2 separate regions of the Homo sapiens genome follow, and region 1 is linked to region 2. A link means that fine-mapping ties the variant in region 2 to the expression of a gene that starts in the linked region. Tissue or cell type: whole blood. Region 2 holds a variant in brackets; the other region holds the start of a gene. All regions are shown on one strand. Distances are from middle to middle.

Region 1 (2,610 bases), 160 kb after region 2:
CAAGGTGGGGTAACTGAAGCAAAGAACCATTCATGTAACTTTGCTAAGTTCACACAACTTGTTGGAATGCAATCCACATCTGTGTGAGTATAAACTCCCTGCTTTTTCAGCTTCACCAAGATCCCTCTTTTTTTTTTTTTTTTTTTTTTTTGAGACGGAGTCTCGCTCTGTCTCCCAGGCTGGAGTGCAGTGGTGCGATCTTGGCTCACTGCAACCTCTGCCTCCCTTCCTTTTATTGGGGCACTATAGTATATGAAATAGATCATCAAGAAGTAATTGAGGTTCTTCCAGAATTTCCTGAACAATGAAATTAACAAGCACTGTTGGTAAATAATAAAAATGCTGGATTAATTTGAAAAAAAAAAAAGTACTAGAATGTTTCTATTCAGGCCGCACCTGAAAATGTGCTACTTATACTAATTAAAAATCCTCAGGCAAGAGACAACTGTGCCCAATTTTCAAGTTTTTTGTTTTGTTTTGTTTTGTTTTGTTGTTTTGTTAATTGTTGACCACGTCCTGAGTTCAGAGCGAATCCTCTGGGTGTTTAATAGGAAACAGATAATTTCTTTCTGAACCTAGCCTACACAAAGAAATCCAAAAGCGTGAGGAAGTGTGTGCTCTCCCCCTTCCCCTCATGGAATTAACTTTGTAGGACCACCTGGCCAGTGAGGCACCCAGATAGGAAACTTTTAATTTGCGTCAACAGAGGTGCTTTATCTGAATAAAACCCAGCCAGAGCCAGAGCGAAGGGGAGAGAGAGAATTGCTGACCAGAAGAACAGGAGAAGCAGGGAGGGAAGTGACCTTAAGAACACACACGGCCCGCGCATCCCACCCCACCAGAGTCTTTAACCCAAAGCCTCTGGGTTTCTCTAGCAGCTATGGGCAGGTGCCCTCCTCAGCCCGAGCCAGCTGCCCGCCCCACCCCGCCTTTTGGCCTCGCGCGGGCGTCGGTGGCCTGCAGGACTGGCAGGCATCCAGGCGCCAGGCGGAGCGCTGAGGGAGGCTCCCGCCGGCCGAACAGCGGGGAGACCCGTGAAGCAGGCGCACCGGCCACGCGCCCGGAGGGACAGGGACAGGGACCGGCAGGGGTGGGCCCGCCGCCAACCCGCCGGGCACCCCGCGGACTCGGGCCTAGCCAGCGACTCCCCCCGCCCTTCCCGCGCCCTGTCTCGCGCCCCGTCGCCTTCCTCCCGCGCCCCGTCGCCTTCCTCCCGCGCCCCGTCTCCCTCCTCCCGTGCCCCGTCTCCCTCCTCCCGTGCCCCAGGCCCTCAGCCCCCCACTTGACGGGCGCAGGGAAGGGGCGGGTGCCGCGCTCTCCTCCCGGCCCGCAGTCCCCTACCCGCGGCTCGAGCGCGCTGTACCTGGGGTTCTGGGGCCGCCCTCACCCTTGCGCCGCCGCCACCACCACTGCCGCCGGCCTAGCTCCCCCAGGACCGAAAGTGAAAGTGGAGCCCGGGGAGCGGCAGGCTGGCGCTGAGCGGCGCTTCGGCCCGAGCCCTAGCGGCAGGCGGGGAAGCCCCTGGCTAAGGCGGGAGCTGGGGAAAGGGTAAACGGGAGTGGGGCCGAGCGAGGGAAGCCGCAACTCCCAGGAAGGGAATTGGTAAATGAGCGCTGCACGCCGGGGAAGCTGCGAGGTTGCGATGCGGGGGATCAGGCGTAGGAAGTGCACGCCTTTCTGAACGCGGATCCGTGTGTGTGTGTGTGTGTGTGTGTGTGTGTGTGTGTGTGTGTGTGTGTGTGTGTGTGTGTGTGTGTGTGTGTGTTGAGATGCTTTTTGTTTTTGTCTTTTTTTTTTTTTCACTGTTTAGCGTTGCGAGGGTTAGGGGCATGCAGGAAAGGGCCGGTGCTCAAGTTGGGGACCGAAGCCAGGCAGGCGCTGACAAGTCCACCAAGCCTAGACGCGTTCGACGCCCATTGGACTCGCTGGGTGTCCGTCATCTCGCCACTGCCAGTGGGCTGAGAGCTCTTGGCCCGCCTCGGAAAGAAACATGAACCCAGTACTCTGTCGTGGCAAAGTGCCGCACCTTCTGGGGCTTCGGTAGAGAATGACTACAGTGGGAGATGCTGTAGAGGAGGAAGGTGGGTTAGAGGTGGCCCCCAGGACTTTCCTGCACTACCAAGGGCCACTGTACCCCAAGGATTAGCTGCTTCCCGCATCAACACGTTCCCTCTGATTTTTCAAAGTAAATGACCATTTCTTCACTCCCCTTAGAACAATTAAAGCTGAATAAAATGGCCAAAAAGACCATCTTTAAACAGTTGAGGCTAAATGAGGTAACAAGTCAAGAAAACACAAACATTAAAACACCAAATGCTACAAGTTTATTACCGAAAATGGGTCCCGATCCAGACCCCAAGAGAGGGTTCTTGGATTTTGCGCAAGAAAGAATTTGAGGGGAGTCCATGGAGTAAAGTGAAAGCAAGTAATTAAGAAACTAAAGGAATAAAAGAATGGCTACTCATAGGCAGAGCACCCCCAAGGGCTGTTGGTTGTCCATTTTTAGGGTTATTTCTTGATTATATGCTAAGCGGGGGAAATTATTCATGCCTCCCCTTTTTAGACCATATAGGGTAGCTTCCCGACGTTGCAGTGGCATTTGTAAACTGT
Region 2 (2,757 bases):
CGGCACCACGCCCAGCTAATTTTTGTATTTTTAATATAGACAAGAGACAGGGTTGCACCATGTTGGCCAGGCTGGTCTCAAACTCCTAACCTCAAGTGATCCGCCCACCTAGGCCTTCCAAAGTGCTGGGATTACAGGTGTGAGCCACCACGCCCATCCAAATACATATAGTTCTTAATATGTACTACAGACTGTTTCAAAGGCCTTGCATCTATTTGCTCATTTTATCCTTCTAACACCCTTATGAGGTAGGAACCATTATTTTCCCAATGTTACAGGTGAGGAAATTAAGGACCAGAGACCAGAGAGGTTGAGTAATTTGCTGCTAAGGGACAGCATTAGCATTTAAATCAAGCAGTCTGCCTCTCTGGGCTGTGCTCTTAACCACTACTCTATATTTATTATTTTGCTACATACAAAACAACGTTCACAATGGAATGTGGAGTGGCATGTTTGCACGCAGCTGGGATGCAAGACACCTTGAGAGTAGGGCACTGAGATTATATTTCAAAATGATATAATATCTGCATCCCTAAAAGTGCATTTTTCTAAGTTACTTTTGCTATCTGTTCTTCAAAGTCTATCTGGAGAATACAAAATAATCCTTCAAGCCAGTCACAAAAGATCACTTATTATATAATTCCATTTATATGAAATATTCAGAATAGTTAAATCTATAGAGGCAGAAAAGTTAGTAGTTGTTTATGGCTGGTGAGGGGACAGATGTGAGGATAGGAAGGTGATAGCTAAAGAGTTTGGAGTTTCTTACCAGGTGCTGTGGCTCACGCCTGTAATCCCAGCACTTTAGGAGGCCATGACAGGTGGAACATCTGAGGTCAGGAGTTCGAGACCAGTCTGACCAACATGGTAAAACCCCAACTCCATTAAAAATACAAAAAAATGGGCCAGGCGCAATGGCTCACCCCTGTAATCCCAGCACTTTGGGAGGCCGAGGTGGGTGGATCACGAGGTCAGGAGATGGAGACCAACCTGGCCAACATGGTGAAACCTTGTCTCTACTAAAAATATAAAAATTAGCTGGGTGTGGTGGCGCGCACCTGTAATCCCAGCTACTTGGGAGGCTGAAGCAGGAGAATCGCTTGAACCTTGGAGGCCGAGATTGCAGTGAGCCCAGATCATGACACTGTACTCCAGCCTGGCAACTGAGCGAGACTTCATCTCAAAAA[A/T]ATAATAATAATAACACAAAAAATTAGCTGGGCATGTTGGTGTGCACCTGTAATCCCATCTACTCAGGAGACTGAGGCAGAATTGCTTGAACCCAGGCCGCAGAGGTTGCAGTGAGCCAAGATCATGCCACTGCACTCCAGCCTGGGGGACAGAACGAGGTTCCGTCTCAAAAACAAAAAAAAAAAAATTGAGGGTTTCTTTTTGAGGTGATGAAAAGGTTCTAAAATTGACTGATCATTCACATCTCTGTGAATATACTAAAAACCATGGAATTGTATACTTCATATGGGTGAATTGTATGGTATGGGGATTATATTTGAATAAAACCATTATTTAAAAAAATACTTCACAACAAATTTGTCTTTAATTAAGTTTCTTGTACAGTGAAAGTCTGTCATTTAAATTTCTCTTTACCCATTTTATATTTACTGCTTCTCCAAGAATAAGGCATTCACAGCAGAAGTAGTTTTGGTACTTGGTGGATTCAAATGGCATGTTGGTCAGCTACAGCCAGCAACTGCTAGAAAATTATCTTTAACCTTTAAAAATTATTATTACAAATAAAAATTTACTACAAATATTTTGGCGGTGTCCATTCCCAGAAAAGTCTTGTTAAACATAAAATTGTTTTTCTTATAACAGTTTATTTTGGAGTAATTTTAGACTGACATAAAAGTTGTGCAGGTGGTATGGAGAATCCACCTATAATCCTCACTCAGTTTCAATTTCCCCTGATGTTATCATCTTACATTATGGTGATACATCTGTCAAAATTAGGAAACCAACATCAGGATATTACTATTAATGAAACTCCAAGCCAGGCGCCGTGGCTCACGCCTGTAATCTCAGCACTTTGGGAGGGTGAGGCGAGTGGACCATTTGAGGTCAGGAGTTTGAGACCAGCCTGGCCAACATGGTGAAACCCCGTGTCTACTAAAAATACAAAAATTAGCCTAGCAGTAGTGGCACGTGCCTGTAATTCCAGCTACTCAGGAGGCTGAGGCAGGAGAATCGCTTGAGCCTGGGAGGCAGAGGTTGCGGTGAGCCAAGATCGGGCCACTGCACTCCAGCCTGGGTGACAGAGTGAGAGTGTCTCAAAAAACAAACAAACAAATAAAACCCAAAACTCCAGACTTCATTTGGATTTATTATTCCACTAATTCCCTTTTTTTGTTGGAGGTCCCAATCCAATACTACATACTCACTATATTTAGTCATCATGTCCCCTTCGACTCCTCTGGGGCCTGTGACAGTTTTTAAGACTTTCCTTGTTTTTCATGCCCTTGACAGTTGGAGTACATCTAGTATTTTGTAAAATATCTCTCGATATGAGCTTATCTGATGTTTTTCTCATGAGTAGGCTGGAGTTATGAGTCTGGGGAAGATTATCACAGTGCTAAAGCGGCCTTCTTGTCACATTCCACATGAGATCCACATGACTTACCACTGGTGCTGTCAACATTCATCACGCGGTTAAGGTGGTGTCTTTCAGGTTTTTCCACTTCAATGTTATTATTTCGCCCTTTCTATATTATTTGGAAGCAAGTCACTAAGTCCAGTGCATGCCCA

What was found. PIP is the estimated chance that this variant, and not a neighbour inherited with it, causes the effect.
Region 1: it holds the start of ERAP1, and the variant in region 2 is fine-mapped to the expression of ERAP1 in whole blood (GTEx, PIP 0.96).

What each region holds. Positions count from the first base shown.
Region 1 is chr5:96,806,497-96,809,106 of GRCh38, forward strand. It overlaps ERAP1 (endoplasmic reticulum aminopeptidase 1), which reads right to left and starts at 1,449. Exons shown (of 19, transcript NM_001040458.3): 1 at 1,364-1,449. It overlaps LOC124901033 (a long non-coding RNA gene), which reads left to right and starts at 962. Exons shown (of 3, transcript XR_007058879.1): 1 at 962-2,081. RefSeq lists a silencer at 870-1,329 and enhancers at 902-1,403, 1,404-1,903, 2,060-2,129.
Region 2 is chr5:96,642,690-96,645,446 of GRCh38, forward strand. It overlaps a transcript of CAST not described here. Among named protein-coding and RNA genes, the nearest start is that of CAST, 18 kb to the right of the region's middle. The variant A/T (reference allele first, on the strand shown) is at 1,188.